Linked DNA regions of Homo sapiens: all the other regions are linked to region 1. Evidence: fine-mapped QTL for protein levels in blood plasma. A gene starts in region 1. Each other region holds a variant in brackets. All regions are shown on one strand. Distances are from middle to middle.

Region 1 (5,151 bases):
ACTTTGGACTTTTGACTTAATACTGAAATGAGTTAAGACTTTGGGGGACTTCTGGGAAGGTATGATTGTATTTGCAATGTGATAAGGACATAATATTTGAAAGTGGGCAGGAGAAAATGATAAGGTTTAGATCTGTGCCACCACCAAAATCTCATGTTGAATTGTAACCCCCAGTGTTGGAGGTAGGACCTGGTGGAAGTTGGCTGGGTCTTTGGGTCAGATTTCCCTCTTGGTGCTGTTCTCATGATGATGAGTGAGTTCTCATGAGATCTGGTGGTTTTAAAATGTGTGGCACCTCCCTACTCTCTCTCTCCCTCCTGCTCTGGTCGTGTAAATATGCTCACTTCCCCTTCACCTTTTGCCATTTTTGTAAGTTTCCTGTGACCTCCCAGAAGCTGATACCAGCATTATGCTTCCTGTAAAGCCTCTGAAACCATCAGCCAATTAAACCTCTTCTCTTTATCAATTACCCAGTCTCAGTCTCAGGTATTTCATTATAACAATTATAGAAAGAACAGATTAATACATCCACCTATTTGTTTTTTAAACAATTTAGCACTAATTATATTTTTTCAAAATTCTTCTTTTTATTACTTTTCTCAGATACCTGTTGTTACTGCACACCTACCTATTCTTGTTTCACACGTGACTTTGTTTTATGGATTTACTTTCTTTTCATTATCTCTATAAGGTTACTAAATATGTTAATGTTAAAAATATTTTCACATTTTATATTTTTATTTTCTGAGGTATTATTTTCTAAGATGTTATTTTCATTGCTGTTTTTGTTTTTTAGTTATTGTTTTTGAATTTATTATGATGTCGCTTTTCCCCAAATCTTTAGTGATTACTGCTTTCACTGTAATCTTTACAGGAATAATGCCCTGAGTGATCATGGGCTGTCAGCACTTTATGGAACATGGCACCTATCCCAACCTTGCTGTGGAGGCTGCGCCTAATTGACGTTATGGCTTCTTCTCTGCTTCCTTCCTGAGAGATATCTCTCCCTTCTTATGAGAGGTGTCATAGTGAAGGCCATGGAGTGTGACAACCTGTGTTCTAGTTCTAAAAGCTGGGTGATGTTGAACAAATGTATTATTGCCTGCGTGCCTCAAGTTTCCTCACCTATAAAAAAAGGTTAATGGTAGTGCTAATTTCATGGGACCAGAGTGATGAATTAATGAGGTAACTGACAAAATGCTTGGCACAGTACCTGGAGCACAGGACATCTGCAGTAAACACAGCAGCTACTACCCTTCATGTCATATAGAGACTAGTTTCTTGTTTTAAAGTGTAATTTGGCATCGATTAACATGATTTTATCATTTTTATATTCATTTCTGTGAGTGTGGAGCAGGAGGTGATGATTTCACCCTCTGTGCATCTGCCACATTGAAAAAGAAATTTGCATGGAAATGTGATGACTTTTACAATTTCATTTGACAATTACTCATGATAGGTGAAGGATTGCAAGCCCAGCATGGGAAAGAGAGGTTTCCAGACAGGTCTTTCTTAGTCACAGATGATGGAGGAGAAACCATTTCTCCTACCAAGGAAATTTTTCTAAAGCACAAGTATGTCAGGGAAGCAGTGAACTCACCCTGTACACAAATGTAATTATAGCCACAATTTTTTGGTTATAATTAAATATGAATCAAACCTTCTGTATGGCTTATATTACTCTTACCATATCACTACAAGGTGCATGTTATAACTTCCATTTACATGTAATTAAGTTAAGGCTTAGAGAAGTCAAGTGTCTTGTTGAAAGTCACACAGCTGGAGATTGTAAGAAAAGGAATTCATCTACAGATTGACAAAAAGCAGGGTGAAGAGGATCCAGAGGGAGAAATTGATCTCAGAGTGTCAGAGGTAGACCAAGTACACCATAAAAGCTGGGTTCCAGAAGTCCGGGGAACATGGGAGAAGGCCACTGGTGGGAAACTCAGCATGCAGTAGAAATCCATTTAAAAGCAATATTTGAGTTCCCTCTCTTCACCTGGCACCATGAGTATCAATAATAACCTACTGAATCTCAGGGATGTATAGTCATTATCTCTTTTGATGTTCACTAAAACATGGCAGTGAGACTTATTATCCCAAGGTTAGAAGGCAAAACTGAACCTAGGCAGGCCCAGTAACTTCCCCAACTCCTTAGCACATCTTCTTAGGGTATTTATTCTCCCTCCCTCCTCAGTTCCCATCTGAAGACAGTGATGAATGGAATAGGTGTTCTATGTGCAGAGCAAAGAGTATTGAAATCGATGTGACTGCTCCAGGAATCTGCCCTCCATATTCTCCCCCATAATAAACATATCCCCTTTCCATAACCCATAATCCCCACCTCACCTCACAAAGCAGATCCTTATTACCCTAAGCCCACTTCCTCTCCTGGAAGAAGTCAGGAAATAATTCCTTCTGCTGGGTGCAGGCATATGAAAGTGCTAACGGCCACATGAGACTGAATTTGGGCTAAGTTTTGCCATTTATATTTATAAAAGTTCGGAATAGGGAACCATTTCAAGAGCAGACCTGTTCCTCTCCAACACTGAGCAGGTCCAGTGATCCCTCATCCTGCCCCAACTGAGTAGCACTTGGTTGAGGCTGTTGTAGAATGAGACCACAAGCCAACCACATCCTGAGGTCTTGAGATGGAAAGTTTAGGAAACATTTCATAACCACAGGTCCTTCCTGGCTTAAGAGCACCAAATGGCAAATCACCAAGAAGACATAAAGATGGGGTTAGGAGTCATGGAAGGAGTTAAGACCTCAGGTGGGAAGGAAGCATTATTTCTGCTAAGCCTGTCTGATTCTCCTGAAATGGGGCATGCATAACTGCTTGCATTGTAGCTGCTTGCTGTTCCTGATTTCTGTTTCACAATCCAGAAGCAGGTTACTGCTTCACTCCATCGCAGCCACTTCCTCTTGAACTAAGGGAGGCAGGGCTTGTCTTCTCTCCTCAGAGCAGAGTCTGCGATCTTCCCAGCACAGACGTTTGGACAGAGCAGGCTCCTAAGGTCTCCAGAATGCCCGTGCCAGCCTCCTGGCCCCACCTTCCTAGTCCTTTCCTGCTGATGACGCTACTGCTGGGGAGACTCACAGGTGAGCACTGCCTTCGGTTAAAATCTTTTTTCCTGCCCACTGAGCCATGGCCTGTCCCTGGACTTTCAGGGATTCCGGACAATGACAAGTGCTGCCAAGAAAGGCCAAGGATTAGGCTTTGACTGAGAGCAGAAAATCAGGGAGCTGAGCACTTTCTCTGTGGATCTGCAGCTGGCTACCAGAGGCATTGAACCACAGGACGATTCAACCACCACAACAACAATTACTTACATTTTGATAATATTTCAATTGAAAAAGCAGAGAAGAATCATTATCTAAATCCTCACCAGTCCTGAGGCCCTAGGGCCAAGTGACATGCCCAAGTCCACAGAGTAAGCTCAGAGACACCCTAACAGGGTTATGTGGCTCTAGGCCCAGCCCTCTCTCTTCACCAAACTGAGGATGTGAAGTCTGTAATAGTGCTCACTTGAGTAGGGCAGTGGTGTGGTGTATCCTGGGAGTGTTCAGCCACCATCCTCCCTAAGGGTGCTCCTCACTTTGTCCTCTGTTCCCCCATGCTCCTCCCTCCCCTGTGACCTGATTCTTACCACCCATTTCTCTGTGGCCTCTTCCTCTTTAAGAAGTTCCACATTTGCTGCTTACTGGGTCCTATATTCCTTTCCTAGGGCTTCCATAACAAAGAACTGCAGGCTGGGTGGCTGAAACTACAGATATTTACTTCCTTGCAGTTAAGGAGGCTGAAGTCCAAGATCAAGGTGTCAGCAGGGTTAGTTTCTACTGAAGTCTCTCTCCTTGGCTTATACAGGGCCATTTTCTCTCTGTGTCTTAAACACATGATCTTCCTCTGTGTGTGTCTGTGTCCTCATCTCCTCTTCTTATGAGAATATCAGTCTTGTTGTATTAAGGCCCACCCCAATGACCTCATTTAACTAAATTACTTCTTAAAGACCCTGTCTCCCAAACTGTAACGTTCAGAGGTGCTGGGGATTAGAGCTTCAACACATGCATTTTGTGGGACACATTCAGCCCATAACAGGTACTACAACCTCCTTTGGTTCTCTTAAATTTCCCATGGATAATTTCTTTCCCCTTCCCAAGACAGGCAGGATTGGAGGGCCTTTCCTGGTGCAGCCTGGGAGAACCCTGCTCACAGCTCCCAGACAAGTTACCTGTCCTGATCCCTTCTCAGGCCATGGAGCTGACCCCAGAACCACAGGGCTGGGCACAGCAGCCTCTCAATTCCCCACTGGGCCCTGCTGTGATGTCACCTCACAGGCCCTAGAGGGCAGGGGTCTCACTTTTCAAATTATTTTTCTCACACATACACTGTACCCAAATGACAGCAGTAAGAGTTTAACAATTGAGCTCTTCCTACCATGTAGACACAGTTATTAGCATTTTGCCTGTTTTAGCTCCACTAATCCTCACAACATCCCTGTGTGAAAGCTGCAACTATTATCCCCTATTTCCAAACAAAGACTCAGGCAGAGGGAGGAACTTGTCCATTCATTGTCCCCTACCTCAGTCAGTGGAGCAGCTGAGATTCAAGTCCAGGTCGACCGGCTCCAAAGTTCATTCTTTTAGTCGTGTTATGCTACTAGCAGAAATATTAGAAAATGCAGGGAAGTAAACATAGAATTAATTATTGCCTACCACACTTGTTAGCAACAACCAGAGTTACAACTGTGATGTATGTACTTCTAAATTTGTTATTAATGTGTTGGATGCTTTCTATGGGCCACATATTTTACTTTCTATGGGCCAGATATTTTAATGAGATTTTAACGTGTGTTGTAATTTTATTTAATACACAAAACAAACTTATATACTATCACAATAGGTCACACTTTGATATATATTTGTGAATGTATATGTGTGTGTCTATATATACATATATATGTGTGTGTGTGTATATATACATATATGTGTGTGTATATATATTTGCAAATGTGTGTATACATATGTGTGTATACATATGTATATGCATGTATGCATATAAGTAAGTGTACATGCACACACAGGAGATTTCATTTTTTATCATTGTTTCTCCAAGTTTCTAATTTCAATGAAACTTTTAACAAAATATTT
Region 2 (5,151 bases), 83 kb after region 1:
AGAATAAATCTTCAAGGCCAGTGTCTTTAAATCTCTCTGTGTTCCATTTTCACATTGCCTTCTCACAATTAAGCTACCAGATTCTTAACAAATCTGTATTAGTCATCTATGCTGCATAACAAATTACCCAAAACTTAGTGATTTCAAACAACAAACACTTACTGTCTCCCAGTGTCTGTGAGTCAGGATTCTAGACATAGTTTAGGTTGAGTGATCTTGGTTTAAGGTCTCTTTTAAGGCTGCAATCAAGGTGTCTGCCAATAATGCAATAATCCAAAGGCTCAACTGGAGAAGAATCCACTTCAAGCTCACTCCCATGGCTATTGGCAGGCCTCAGATCCTTGCGGGCAACTGGCTGAAGACATCAGATATCTGCTACATGGGCTTCTCCATAGGACAGCTCACAACATGGCAGCTGCTTCTCCTCAAGAAGCAGGAGAGAGGGGAAGAAGAAGATACAAGTCACAATTTCTTTATAAGCTAATTTCAGAAGTGACATCCTGTTACTTTTACTTTTTCATTAGAAGTGAATCACTAGATCCAGAGGAAGGGATTACATAGTGGGGTGAATGCCAGGAGCTGGAGATAATCTCAAAGGCTGACTACCACAGCAGTTCTCTCAGTAACTAGGAGGACATGCAGACAAAATGTCAGTAAGGATACAAAAGATTTGATCAAGGTGATTAACAAATTTGATGTAATTGAGCACTGCACCCAACAACTGAAAAACACAGCTCCTTTTCAAGCCCATGTGAGATATTAACTAAAATTAATCATAAGCTTGGTCAAGAAGCAAGTCTCAACAAATCTTGAAATATCAAAATTATATAAGTATGTTTTCTGATCATTGTGGAATTAAACTATAAATATTTACAAAAAGATCATTAGAAAATCCTCATATATTAGGAATTTGGGAAATAATCTAAATAACTGATTTATCAAAAAAGAAATTACCACAGATACTAGAAAATATTTTGGACTAAATAATAATTAAAATACTGCACATTAAACTTGAGGCATGTAGTTACTGCTGTACTTGGAATTTATAGCCTTAAATCCCTATATCAGAAAAATAAAAATGATTGAAACCCAGTAATGAAAGCATCCATTACAACAATTTACTAAAACAATGACAAAGGTTTAATTTTAGTGTGGTCAGTGGGGGTGGGGAAGATGTTGCCAAGGGTGCTGTCTAGTTACTACTGCTGCATAGCAAAACACCCCAAAACACAAGGTCAAAAAAACAACCATCTTATTATGATCAATGACACTGTGGGTAAGGAATTCAGACAGGGTACAAGAATGACTTATCTCTGCTATATGTTGCCTGGGGTCTCAGTTGGGAAACTCACCTGGGGATGACTCAACTGCTGGGTCATCTGGAAGCTTCTTCTTTTACATGTCTGATGATTGATAATGGATATTGGCTGCATCTTAGCTGGGATGTCAGTTAGAACTCTTACATGTGTCCCTGCAATGTGATCTCTTCATGCATGCTAGTTTGGGCTTCCTCATAGCATGGTGGCAAGGTTCCAAAAATTAGCATCCCAAGAAAGCCAGGTAGAAATGCAGGGAATTATTATGGTCTAGCCTCAGAAGTCACATCACATCCCTTCTGTTGCAGTCACAGACCTGCCCAAACTCAGGGGGAGGGAACATATGCCTACATCTCCATGGGAAGAGTGTCGAAGAGCATGAGTGAAGAGGGACCTTGTTGCAGTCAGCTCTAGAAAATAGAATCTGTCATCAGTGAAGACAGGGATTAGAGTTAGAACAAAGAGTGCTAAACGGAACACTCTGGCCAGTTCCTTGTCAAGAAATCCCTCTCAGAAAAAATGTTTAACAAGCTAGAATAAGGTGTCGAGGGGAGAGGGACACTCATCATGCTACAGAGCAATCAAATCTCATCGCTGATTGGCCCCTTTCATTCCACCCCTTCTCATCACCATTCTCATCACCAACATCCGGTCAGCCACTGGTAAGGAGGCAGGGGTGGGGAGCAGTGGGGAAACTGAGTCACAGGAGGCAGTGTCTGGCACTGGGTCCACAGAAGTGATGAGCTCATGGCTAGAGGCTCTGAATGTGATTTCATGTGCAGGTGGCTGCTGCTCAGAAGGAGGAGAGGAGATGTATTCTTGGTGTGAGTGTTTCTACATCTCCTCCACTCCCTTCTCCCAAGAGGTGGCCCCAGACTAGGGACAGAAAAAAGAGATACCCCTCCTCCTCCCAGCTGC[G/A]TTTCTGCATGTCACTGTTCCTGCAGTATGAGCACACTAAGGCCCTGCACCCCCCGCTTGACACACACAGGCTTCTTCCCCTTTTCTCTAAAACAGAAACTATCCTCCTCCTCCCAAGATCGAACTCCTTGCTCACTCAAAGTCACTTCCCCTGTAAGCGTACTTTGAAGAGCCAAAGCCTCCCATCAGATATGGCTTCAGGATCATTTTTACAACTGACACCTCTGGAGTGGGGAAAAACAGGGATCCACACCTGTGAAGCCCCATTCCCGGGAGCCCTCCTCCTGACTAGCTGCACAGCTCATCTGAGCCCAGGTCTTGGACTATCACAGGAGGCTGGACACACCGTTCTCTATGGCAGACCCTGTTCCTGGGCTCCTGGATGAGGAAGGGTCACCAGCACACCTGACACAAAGTGAGGGGCCCAAAGGACACAGCCTAGGCACTAAGGGTGTCTGCCAGGGCCCCTCCAAGCACCTTGGGACCCTTATATCAGTAACTTATTAGCTTGTGTCTGATTCCTATTTCACAATCTAGAAACTGGAACGGTCATAATCCTACAGCCCTTTCCTCCCATCATAGTAACTTCCTCTTATATCATGGAACACATAGTTTTGCCTCTCTCAGCAGAGCAGAATCCAAGACCTCCCAAGAACAGACCTGCAGGCAGAGCAGGCTCCAGGGCCCACCATGATGCCCATACCTGCCTCTCGGCCCTGCCTGAGAGAAACAGCACAAACTATTTCGTCCAACCCTGCTGCTGCCTCCGGCTGCTGGGACTCACAGGTGAGTGCCCCCACCCTCAGGTACCATGATGCAGGGATGCTCTCCTGAGTTTGGCGGCGGTACCATTTCGCCACCTGCAGTGGGGCGGATGAATCTCTGTTGTCCTAGGGCCTCTTTCTTTGCCACCCCTTCCTCTTTAAGACACTTCCCTAAATAGTTTGTTTTATAACTAGTGTCTCCAAAACAAATCCTTCCAGAATTCTTCTTGCTTGGAGGGGTTGCTTTCTCTCCCATCCAGGCGTTTCCCCATGACAGGGGTGCCCAGTCCCTCTCACTTCCCACACCCCTGATGTCCTGTGAAGGTTCCACGACCCCCTAGGCCTGACCTGCAGGACCTGATGCCATCCTGAGAGAAGAAGTAGAGGAGCAGCATTTGACCCCTTGGTCCCCAGGAGGGAGACAGGGATGCTGTCATTAAGATGAGTACACATGGATGCATAGGTGATTAATAGATAGATTAGATAGATAGATAGGTAGATAGATAACAACAAGTACTACACATGCAATGTAGAACTATTAGAAAAAATTGCTAAATGGTCCTTTTTAGACTAGTAAGTCTCCCAGAATCTCAGAAACCTAGGATTACGTTCTTGATGCGGGTGTTTCTCCTGCCTGTCTACTCTCTTCTCTCCAAAGATGATCTGCACAGTCAGGAGAGGCAACCATTCTTCTCCCAGTGGTGTTAACATCTCAATTTAGAGTCCAACTAATAAAGTGGTTAAAAGCACAGGCATTAAAAAAAAAAAAAAAAACGACAGGCCGGGGTTCAAATGCAAGTTTCATCATTTGTAGGCTGTTTGACTATGGATAAGTTACTCAACTTCTCTGTGCCTCTGTTTTCTTGTCTGTGAAATCGGGATAAATAATAATGCCTTTCCAATACAGTTGTGGTGAGAATCAAACTAGTTAATTAATATAGTTAAGTTTTTGGAGTAATGTGTAGCACACAGAACCACCTATGTGAGCTCTGGTTGTTACAGCCTTTTAGGGCTTAATAAGTGCAAATATGAGCCCACGAAAATAGTCCTGCTGCATCCGGCCATTGCAACTCTCACTCTGTGTCTTTGGCAAGTCTATGTCTTCACTTAGAACTCACAGAAGTCATGGGAACTGAGAAAGGTCCATCAGGCTTGGTAGAAGAAGGAACTGAAAGCCAAGCAATGGTGTGCGCTTCCTAGAATCACCAGGTTGTCAGGGCTGGAGCCTGGCCTACTGGACTTGCAGTTAAGAATGGAAAGCCCATTTCACAGAAGTCCTTCTATGAGCACAGTCCTGAGTGTTTCTCAAAGATTTTCAGGTTTCAGTATCACAACAAAATTGCAAGAGGAAGTTTTACTTTCCACATTGTATACATTACATAGATAAGAAAACAGAGCCTCAGGGAGGTTATTTTCGCAAAGTAAAACACCAATGTCAGTCCTTTTTCTGTTGCTTAGAATAGAATACATGAAACTGGATTATTTATAAAGAAAAAGAACCTATTTCTTATAGTTGTAAAGGCTGAGATGTTCAAGGTCAAGGGGCCATATTTGGTGAGAGCTTTCTTGCTGGTGGGGACTCTCTAAAGAGTCCTGAGGCAGCACAGGGTATCACATGGTGAGGGGACTGAGCATGCTAGCATACTATACTTGGGTCTCTCTCTCTCTTCTTATAAAACCAACAGTTCCCCTCCCATGATAACCCATTAATCCACTAATTTGTGAAATAACGCAGAGTCCTTATGACCCAATCACCTCTTAAAGACCCTACCTCTCAATACTGCACATTGAGGATTGAATTTCAACATGAATTTTGGAGGGGACAAATATTTAAACTATAGCAATCAAGCAATAGAGGAGGCATTGAAACCTGGGTCAATGGGACTCCACTAGCTCTTACTTTGACCTCTTCACTGTGCTGCTTCTAGATACATCGAACTTTTAACAAAAATAAGATTACACAAAATATGGTGGTTTATTTGTTCTTTTACTCAATGATAAATTGGGGACCCTTTTCTATGTAAATATATATGTGTCTGCAACATCATCAATACATCCCCAATATATACATCAACACTATCATTTCAATCTCTACATAGTTTTCCATTTTGTGGTTGTACCATCATTTATCTAACTCACTCCTATTCTTGGAC
Region 3 (5,151 bases), 62 kb after region 1:
CTATGCTACGTATCAGAAAGGTGGGGATCCCTTCATCTCTAAGGGAGCAAGTCAGTCACAGAAGAAAGCCTTGTTTATAGTACCTCCAGATTAATGAGAATCCACAAAAATGTTTATTCAAGAGAGGGACATAATTAAATCTATGTTGTAAAAAGACCAGTCTGGCTGAAGAAGGAGAAAGAGATTATAGGGGGCAAATAAAAATGGGGGTACCCTAGTGAGAAGGCAATTGTTCTTATTCAGGCAAGAGATGATGATAGAGATGGAGAAAGAGATTAATTCAGAAGGGATTTAGGAGGTAAATCCAATAGGGCCTGGTAGGGGCAAGATAGGAGTGTGAAACTATGCCCCCAAAGAGTTAAAGAAACCAGTCACTAAGAAATTCTTGAGTTTACAGGATAGCAGATAAGAAAAAAAAAAAATTGCTAAACTGCCGAAACTTCCTCCACTTGTAGGATAACAAAACTGACTAAAATCTGTTGGAACCAATATGGCCAACTGGAGTTTGCTCAGAATGAGCTTGCTGATGTCACAGCCTGAGTTTCTACCACGTATTTCATGATGACGCCCCAGGGTTTTGCACATGGGAGCCGTGAAGAGGCATAGAGAGATAACTGTACATGCCCAAGGACTTTCCAGACCTCCCCTTTCCTTTCACAAATCACATACTAATCCCAGAATCCAACCCCTAAACTTTTGCTAATAAAACTACTGCCTTGAAGCCAGCACATGGAGCTAGATTTGAGGTAGACTTCTGTCTTCCTGTTAGTCAACTTGCAATAAAAAGCTTTTCTTTTCTCAAAAGCCTGGTGTCACAGTATTGGCTTCTAGCACATCAGGCAGCAACCCCCTTTCACTTGGTAACAAGTGGATAAGTGAGGGTATAGAACATGAGTCCCTTCCTGGTTTGACAAACTGCTTAGATGATGGTACCATATACAAAACAGGCATGGTGTGGGAGAAGATAAGGTTTGTGAGTGCAGATCTGAAACTCAAACTTGAATATTTAAGGTATACAAAGAGGCCAGGCTCAGTGGCTCACACCTGAAATCCCAGCACTTTGGGAGGCTGAGGCAGGTGGATCATCTGAGGTCAGAAGTTCGAGACCAGCCTAACCAATATGGTGAAACCCTGTCTCTATTAAAAATACAAAAATTAGCCAGGCGTGGTGGTGGGCGCCTGTAGTCTCAGCTACTCGGGAGGCTGAGGCAGGAGAATCACTTGAACTCGGGAGGCAGAGGTTGCAGTGAGCCGAGGTCATACCATTGCACTCCAGCCTGGGCAACAAGAGCGAAACTCTGTCTCGAAAAAAAAAATACATATATATATATATATACAAATGAAGATGTCAAGAAGGTTGCAGAATATACAGGTCTGTATCATGGGCCCAAGATTACTCAGCTCTTAGGAGGTGCGTTCAGGATTCTAGCCTAGATTATATCTGATTCCAAAGCTGGCACTCTTGGATACTGACCCGTGAGTACTGACTCTCCAAGGAACTTAGAGTCTAATGAAAGGTGAGAAGATTCCTCAGAGTAGGGGAAGGGGAGGATGATGGAGGCTGGAGGAATGTTCCTGTCTAGTTCCAAGCAGGGGCCATGGATAGGAATTCCTTTGTGGAATTCATCATTTCAGAACAACGGGATAGGATGATGACATCACAAGGGGATGGGGACTCTTGTCGTCTCAGAGAGAACGTGCCAGCCTGGCTCTGCTTTCTTTTCCTAGAGGGTCTAACACCTCTCCCGGCCCTGACATCTAGCTGGTTCCTGAGGAGGAGGCAGAAGTCATGAGGAGGCAATGGGGAAACAGCCATGGCAGCCAGTGCCTGCCTGTGGATGCTTGGACATTAAAGGGTCACCAGCTGAGTGTGGGCTGAGTGTCCCTGAACACAACATTTGTGCTTAGGAAGAACCCATTCCAGAGCTGAGAGAGAAGGATGCCAACATGCTGCTTCCTCCCTCTTTCTGGGGGCATTTCTTCTGCCCCTCCAATCCCATCTCTGAGAGCTGGTCCCAGGTCCAGCCCAAGCAGGAGAGGCAGCCCTCACCTTCCCAGGTGTTTGTAGGCATGTTACTCTCCCTCCTAGAGAGTGTTCCCCGCAGCTCCGCCTTCCCTGCAGGCCTCCTCCATCCTCTAAAGCACAAATCATCACCACCTGCACAACTCGAATGTCTTTCTCAGCCATGCCTGATTCCTCTGCAGGAAGGAAAAAGGAAGCAGTTCCTGGTAGTGTATGGAGGGACCCACAGAAAAGCCAAGAGCCCACAGCAGATATTGCTTGTTTTTTACCTCTAACTACTCTGGAGTGCAAGAAAGGGCATCCATTGTAAAGTCCAACTCTTACCAAGTGGGTGAGGCTATAGACATCTTGTCTCTTTCTTCAGCTGTGCAGCTCAGACAGGCCCAGATGTTGAGCTCATGCAGGAGCTAGACCCATACCTGCGCATCATGTGGATGAGGCCTTTGTCTAGCCTATGTGTCTGAGGCTCCTAGATAGGCAAAGGCCATGAAGTTGGGGAGAACCTGTGAGATGGGATGAAACTCAGGAAGGAGTATAAGGCTGTGGGTGTCAAGCCCCCCAGCCCCAGCAAAGCTAAATACTTCCAGCAGCAACTTCCTAGCTTGAAGCAACCTTGTCTGTTCAATTTTATAATCACAAAGGAAAAAGTGTCCCAGTCCCCTGGCCTTTCCTCTCATCACAATCCCCTTCCTCTGACATCACAGAGGCAAGAACT[G/A]TCTTCTCTGCTCGGAGCACTGAGTCGAGGGCATCTCCAGGACAGGCATTCAGGCAGAGCAAGCTCCAGGTTTCACCACAATGCCCATCCCTGCCTCCCCACTCCACCCACCTCTGCCTTCCTTACTGCTGTATCTGCTGCTTGAACTGGCAGGTGAGTGGGGCCTCAGTGTATGTGTGTGGTGGGTTCTCCCCTCTGCCTGTTTAGTGAACTCTCCCTCACCTGTTCCCATAGAATTTCTTTTGGGAGGGTTTTCTCCATCTTATCCCAGAACAGGCAGAACTCAGAAGACTACACTGGGATGGTCCCCAATTCTGACAAAGTCTCCCGGTGGCCATGTCTGTTGCAAATCTCTTTGCTCAGGTAAACGACTCACACCTATGGTCACAGGGCGGGGCACAGCATCCATCACAGCTCTCACCCTCCAGCCTCTGGAGGGTGTAATTTATTTTATTTTATTTTTACCTTTACTTATTTTTTTGAGACAGGGTCTCACTCTGTCACCTAGGCTGGAGTGCAGTGGTGCGATCTTGGCTCACTACAACTTCCACCTCCTGGGCTCAAGTGATTCTCGTGCCTCCAACTCCCAAGTAGCTGGGACTACAAGCACGCGCCACCATGCCCAGCTAATTTTTGTCTTTTTTGTAGAGATGGGGTTTCACCATGTTGCCCAGGCTGGTCTCAAACTTATGAGCTCAAGAGTTCCACCTGCCTCGGCCTCCCAAAGTGCTCGCATTATAGGCGTGAGCCACCACACCTGGCCCCTGGCAGATTTTACACTTCTTTCTGTGAAATTCAGTTTTTTATTTCTCTGTTGCCACTGCATTTGGCTGCTCTTAAAAAGTACTGCAAACTGGGTGGTTTAAATTACAGAAATTAATTTTCTCACAGGTCTGGAGACTAGATATTCAAAATCGAAGTGTGGGCAGGGTTGGTTCTTTCTGAGGACTGTGAGGTTGAATCTGTTCCATGTCTGTCTCTGAGCTTCTAGCAGTGGTAGCCTCAAACATTTGTTGGATGGCAGGTGGCACCACCCTCCCTGTATCCTCACATCATCTTACTCCCATGTATGTCTGTCTCTGTGTCCAAATTTCCACTTCCTATAAAAACATCCACCATATTGGATTAGCACCCACCTCAATGACCTCATTTTAACTTGATTTCCTCTGTAACTCTATTTCCAAGTAAGGTCACATTCTGAGCTACTTGTGGTTAAGACTTCAACATATATTTCGGAGGCATACAATTCAACTCATAATAGCCTCAACATGAAATTTTAATAACTTAGATATATTCTTTGTTGGTTTATGTACTGCATTTATATCTGTCTGTGCTTTATACATAGGAAGGGTAACTATAAAGCTTCCTCTTTTTATTCAATGGAGAGTTAAGGATGACTAAAAATATTTAGGTAAAAGCTAACTTAAGATACTTAAAGCTAGTAAAACTCACTTGAATTTTTAACTGTACTTATTGGGTGAGGTACACAGACTGTAAGGTGACTCCCAACTATCCCACCCTTATGTAATCTCAGTTGTGTGTGACATGCTTCTATCTGATAGAATATGGCCAAAGTGATGCACTGTCTCCCCCTTGAGTATGTTAGGTTGTGTAAGATCTATCACACTAGAGTTTTTTTGCAACTTCTGGCCTTAAAGAAGCAAGGAGCCATGTTGCAAACTGCCTGTGAGAAGGCCCACATGGCAATGAACTGAGGGAAGCCCCTAGAAGTTGAGGGCCTCAGTCCTACAACCACAAAGACCTGAATTCTGCCAACAACCTGAGTGAACTTAGAATGAACACTTCCCCAGTCAAACCCCCAGATGAGAACACAGCCCAGCTGGCACCTTGAGTGGAGCTTGGTGAGACCTTGAAGCAGAGAACCCAGCTAAGCTATATCTGAATTACAAATGGACAAAAATTGTGAAATAATTAATATGTGTTGTATTCAGCCTCTAAGTTTGTCGTAATTTGTTATTCAGCGATAGAAAAGGAATATACCGAGTAAGATGGCAAAACCATTCAAAATAAAGTCCTCCATTGTTTTGTAGAACTTATTTGTTTTTAAAGGTGTACAACTTGATGGTTTTTTAAATTTTATCTTGGTTTTAATTGACAAATAATAATTGTATATATTTATGTGGTATAATGTGATGTTCTTATACATGTCTACACAGTGAAATGATCAAATCAGGCTAATTAACATATCCATCACCTCACATACTTATCACTTCTTTGTGGTAAGAACATTTAAAATCTACTCTTTTAGCTAGTTTGAAGTATGCATTAACTATAGTCACCATGCTGTGCAATAGATCACCAGAACCTATTCCTCATGTCTAACTACAACTTTATAGGCTTTGACCAGCATCTCCCATTTCCTTGTCCAACTCTCCACCACCCCAGACCCTGG
Region 4 (5,151 bases), 50 kb after region 1:
GGTTCAAGGTAACAATTAGCAATTTGCAGACACCCTTAAAATTCATCTACATGGAGAAACTGCACTCGTTGTTCTGATTCTCCAATGTGTTTGCTTTCAAGGCCCAGAATAGGTTTCTGTCTGTTGGTGTGGCCTGGGTCTTTGTCTCTTGTAATTAATTAACGATGAAAAAGCTAACCACCTTTGGCTTTCTTAGTACTCAGTGATCCTTGTTTTTCACCCAAACCTGTCCTAACTGAAGATTCAGATTCCCAAAAATTTCCTCTTTTCAAATTTAGGACTTCCAGCAGATTAGAACAACTAACAACAACAGCAAAATGATTGTTAGGAAGGCCAAAGGAAATAGCATTTATCTGAAAGATAAAGAGGTGCAATTTGGGTACACTGAGTCAGTGAAACCCTGAATAGTGTCCCGTATGGCAATACAGGACAGGTTTTTTATAGGGGATTTTCACAAAAGGTTGTTTTTGGAAACAGTTCATTAGCTGGTTGAAAATCCTCAACTGCAAACCCACTCTCATTGGTTATTTCATTAAAGTACTCCAGGTGAAAGAGATCAAAATCCCACGGACCCTGGCTTCAGTTGTTATCCAGGTCTATCTACTGCAACATCCTGTGGCTTGACCTTTAGCAGGTGTGATTCCAATGCTCTTACAAACTCTTGGCTCTACGTTAAAGCTTTATCCTTAATTAATGCCTTTTATTTGACAGAACGAAATATTTGTGAAAAGAAAAATACGGAATGTTTCATATTTTTATAATACCTAAAGAGAGACCTCTGTGTATCTGTAAAGTCTGGGTTAAAGATAGATCTGTGTTTTTTGGGGGAAGCATCTTCTGTGTTTGATCCAGAGCAAAACTGCTTCCATTGCCCCATTGAATCCTGGCGACATCCCAGGAAGTAGAAACGCCGTCCTCCGTCCTCCTGTTTTGCGGATGAGGAGCTGGGGTTGTCAGCCCACCCCTGTCCTGGGCTGAGCAGCCTGGTTGCAGCTCTCACGGTGGTGCCACTTTGCCATTGATCCCTGTATTGGCTTCTATAAATGCCCTCTCTGAGGTTAGTGAGCCTTCCGGGGGAGGACAGCTAGGACCAGTTAATAACATGGAGGGAGACCAATCAGTAATTTTGTTCCTATGCCCAGATTGGTGGAAGTCTCCCTGTGTGGAGAGGACTTTGAACTCAGGCCTGGACTTCCCTCTGGGCCCTGCCCCTACTCACTGTCTGACCATGGCCTGGTTCTCACCTCTAAGAGCTGTTGTGTCCTGATCTGTAAAATGAGAATAAGGACACTGCCTTCACGACATTATTAGAAAGATTAAAAACTAACGTCTCAGAAGGTTCTTAACATGTCAAACGCTTATCATCAGTGATGGTCATCTGAGTCATGTCTCCTGATTATCGATGGTCCTTTTGTAGCCAAACCCTCTGCCCCCGTGGTATCGGGCCCTGCGGTGAGGGCCACACCTGAGCACACAGTGAGCTTCACCTGCGAGTCCCATGGCTTCTCTCCCAGAGACATCACCCTGAAATGGTTCAAAAATGGGAATGAGCTCTCAGACTTCCAGACCAACGTGGACCCCGCAGGAGACAGTGTGTCCTACAGCATCCACAGCACAGCCAGGGTGGTGCTGACCCGTGGGGACGTTCACTCTCAAGTCATCTGCGAGATAGCCCACATCACCTTGCAGGGGGACCCTCTTCGTGGGACTGCCAACTTGTCTGAGGCCATCCGAGGTAGAAGACCCTCACACCCAGCCCAAGCCCACACCTGGCTGCCAAGCCCACTCCCCTCTCCCCAGGCTCCAGAGCTTGAAAGGCCTGGAATCTAATTCCTAACTGTGTTGTCCACCTCCCATGCACCTAGGTGAGCCGGTCACTTACTATCATTTTAATGGCAGCTGTCAGGGGACCAGCAACCATGTGCCAAGCTCTGGGCTACAGAGTTTCATTTATTTCACCAAGAGCAACTACAATTAGTGAGCACCTACTAGGAGCCAAATCACTATGTGCTCGGCGATTTCACTGATTTTGCTACAGTTCTTACATTCCAACTGCATGCCAGGGGTTGTGCTTGTAGATTTCACTCATCCTTAGCCTAGCAGCAGCTAACAGTCCTTGGGCACCTACTGTGCGCCAGGCACTGTGCTTAGTAATTTCACTCATATGCAACGAGTGCCCTCAATGTCTGAGCACCTGCTGCCTGCCTAGCACTGTCCTGGTGATGCCCTCACTGTGTTGGTGGGAGCTACGTTATTTAGCCCTCCCTGTGATCTGTCTGTGCCACAAGATCAGAGCTTCTGCCCTGTGCTGTTTCAGTTCCACCCACCTTGGAGGTTACTCAACAGCCCATGAGGGCAGAGAACCAGGCAAACGTCACCTGCCAGGTGAGCAATTTCTACCCCCGGGGACTACAGCTGACCTGGTTGGAGAATGGAAATGTGTCCCGGACAGAAACAGCTTCGACCCTCATAGAGAACAAGGATGGCACCTACAACTGGATGAGCTGGCTCCTGGTGAACACCTGTGCCCACAGGG[A/G]CGATGTGGTGCTCACCTGTCAGGTGGAGCATGATGGGCAGCAAGCAGTCAGCAAAAGCTATGCCCTGGAGATCTCAGCGCACCAGAAGGAGCACGGCTCAGATATCACCCATGGTGCGGTTACTTCCCATTTTTAAATTTTGTCTTTTTCTTTAATGTTAAAAGCAATATTCATGCTTGTCATAAAATAAGCTAGAAGTCTATAAATATAAAGTAGAATTTTAACGTCTACATTAAAATCCTACACTCCATGGGTCACCACTACTTAGAAGGTTCAAGGTAACAATTGGCCATTTGTAGACACCCTTAAGCCCCATCTACCAGGAGAAACTGTGCGTCAAGTCTGATGCACAACTTGATAGATATTTTGACATAAATATACATTAAAGGAAAAAAGAGAGAGGGAGGTGATCCGTTTGTTTATGAAGTCCTGTGTCTCGCCTTCTTCTGCATTTCTCGCCAGCACAGCACCTTGCCTTTTACACTTTCTAACCTCTACCTTGTCCCTATTCTATCCTAAACTTTTCCATCCGCATCTGTGACCTCAGCCACCAGTCTCCAGCATCTGCTCTATAAATTTCAGAAAGACAAGTGAAGTTTAAGCCTGGACAGACCCCCAGGTGACCTGGTCACAGCACAGGCTTCTTTTGTGTTCTGATGGTGATATTTGACCAACAATAATCACAACCACTCTGCACATTTACTATATGCAAATTTCTGTTCATCTCTGATCTCCTTTCCTGCTTCAAACACCCAGTGAGCTTGGAGTTTTACCAAAGGGGAAACCAGGACTTAGGAAGTAATGAGGGATGTTGTTGAAGACTTCTTGTCATTAGACCAGGTTATTGGTCCAAAGTAATGAAGGTAAATCTAGTCCCTGAGGACAGGCTCACTACCAGGCTATAATGGGAATTTGTGCTAATTAGAGAAACTTTCCCTTTCTGCTGCGCTTTGTCCCAAGGACCCAAATTTGGCCAGTGTTCCCCCTCTCTATAACCAAAATATGTCTTATTTCCCTCTCTTTTAATACCAGGAGGGGTCCCTCTACTCCAGTCGAAAGACAATCTTTGAGTGCTTTGACCCGAATACATCCTCCCACATCTCAGGGTCCCACAACTTCCCCATCAGGGCCCAACCCCAGCATAGAAGCCATTAAAGCTGACATTCAACATCCTTTGTGATTCTGCTACTCTTCTAATGATGGCTGGGGCCCAATCTTCTATTCTTTCTGCCCTGAGGCTCCAGGAAATAAGAATAAGGACTCAGGTTCCTTCCAAAACACCCTATGATGTTTGCGTCATCTCCTGGGTCAGTGCTGAGTCACGGATTTGTTCATGTCCCTGCCTGCCAGAAGAGGAAAGACACGAAATAGAAGACAAACAATGTCCCCAATCATCAGAGATGTGTGGAAGGTGCATAGTCACGTCCACTGAAAACTTGCTCACGCATGCACCTGCAGTTGCACATTGAGGGATCATGTGATCAAGGACATTTTTCACAAAACCAGTGTCATTGTCCACTTAAATTTTAAGTGTTCAAATCACTAAATTTCATAAAGTTATTAAAATAATTTCCTCATATCATCTAAAATGGAGCATACATTCACATTTTACCAAATTTTTTAGAACCATTTTCCTGTGTGTTAAATTTGGTTTTAATTTATCTTTAAATGCTTGTGTTTTCCTTTGAAAGATCTGGGCCCCAGGGATATTTTTGGATATTTTATAATCATAGATTCAATGTCGTTAATAGTTTAGGGTTATTCACATTTTTCGTTTCCTATTGAGTGAGCCCTGGTAAGTTGTGTTTTGCATAACTTTTGGTCCATTTCATCTAAGTTGTCATATTTATGTGTGTAGAGTTGTTCATAATATCCTCTCATAACCCTTTTGGTGTCTGCAGGGTCTGCAATGGTATCCCACGTTTCATCCTGATACTAAAAATGTGTCATTTCTCTTTTCTTTTTCATCAGTCATGCTAGAGTTTTTTCCCATTTTATTGGTGTTTTCAAAAGATTGACTCTTTGTTTCAATGGGTTTTTGTATTGTTTTTGTGTTTTCAGTTTCATTAATTATCTGCTCTCTTCTCTCTTTTTTTTTTTAAATTAATTCCTATCTCCTGCTTTCTTTGGGTTTACTTTGCCCTACTTTTTGTAGTTTCTTTAAGTGCGGGATTTATATTTATTGACTTGAGACCTCCTCTTTTCTATGTCCTCCCTTCATCACTTTCTGTGGCTGGGGGCTGGTATTTGGGCATAGAGTCCCTGCTGTTTGGCTGCTGGGCTGTTCCTCAGTCCTCAGGTTCTTACCTCGCTCTTCCACCTTGGAAGTTCTCCTATGCCTGCTCCTCATGATATTTCTTGGGTTCATAGTTGTACTTCTCAAGGAGGCACAGGATGAGATGAGTCTGTACCATCTGGACAAGGTTGAGTCTTTTCTTAGACTTCCAACCACCCACTGGGGCTGAGAGAGGGCTGCCATTTTTGGGTTCTTTCAGTGTGTCTGACATGGCATCCTGGCACATATGCTAAGTCTGGAAATGCATTTTAGGTTGTCTAGGCTGGCAGGCAAACTGCAGGATGCCTTCTGTGACGTGCTGCATCAGTGGCATGGGAG

Direction of the effects. Positions count from the first base shown, and alleles are read on the strand shown. Strength reflects both the effect of a copy and how common the allele is. Not every link is listed here.
With allele A in place of G in region 2, the plasma level of the protein whose gene starts at base 2,962 in region 1 is higher (strong association).
In carriers of allele G in region 3, the plasma level of the protein whose gene starts at base 2,962 in region 1 tends to be lower than with A alone (strong association).

Evidence for each region. PIP is the posterior inclusion probability: the model's chance that the variant is causal. The UK Biobank Pharma Proteomics Project read protein levels with antibody pairs (Olink). The fine-mapping took linkage between variants from a reference panel, not from the people measured, so its PIPs are less certain.
Region 2: its variant is fine-mapped to the plasma level of the SIRPB1 protein (UK Biobank, PIP above 0.99).
Region 3: its variant is fine-mapped to the plasma level of the SIRPB1 protein (UK Biobank, PIP above 0.99).
Region 4: its variant is fine-mapped to the plasma level of the SIRPB1 protein (UK Biobank, PIP above 0.99). The variant lies in the coding sequence of SIRPB1. If it changes the protein, the assay may bind it differently, which can mimic a change of level.

The regions. Positions count from the first base shown.
Region 1 is chr20:1,617,820-1,622,970 of GRCh38, reverse strand. SIRPB1 (signal regulatory protein beta 1) reads left to right here and starts at 2,962. Exons shown (of 6, transcript NM_006065.5): 1 at 2,962-3,102. The coding sequence starts at 3,027.
Region 2 is chr20:1,535,024-1,540,174 of GRCh38, reverse strand. SIRPD (signal regulatory protein delta) reads left to right here. Exons shown (of 4, transcript NM_178460.3): 3 at 2,865-3,020. LOC105372499 (a long non-coding RNA gene) reads right to left here. Exons shown (of 4, transcript XR_001754464.2): 3 at 163-418. Among named protein-coding and RNA genes, the nearest start is that of SIRPD, 20 kb to the left of the region's middle. The variant G/A (reference allele first, on the strand shown) is at 2,235.
Region 3 is chr20:1,555,321-1,560,471 of GRCh38, reverse strand. It overlaps SIRPD (signal regulatory protein delta), which reads left to right and starts at 2,767. Exons shown (of 4, transcript NM_178460.3): 1 at 2,767-2,891. The coding sequence starts at 2,819. It overlaps LOC107985409 (a long non-coding RNA gene), which reads right to left and starts at 2,465. Exons shown (of 3, transcript XR_007067493.1): 1 at 2,348-2,465. The variant G/A (reference allele first, on the strand shown) is at 2,739.
Region 4 is chr20:1,568,304-1,573,454 of GRCh38, reverse strand. It overlaps SIRPB1 (signal regulatory protein beta 1), which reads left to right. Exons shown (of 6, transcript NM_006065.5): 3 at 1,418-1,735; 4 at 2,318-2,650. Among named protein-coding and RNA genes, the nearest start is that of SIRPD, 13 kb to the right of the region's middle. The variant A/G (reference allele first, on the strand shown) is at 2,537.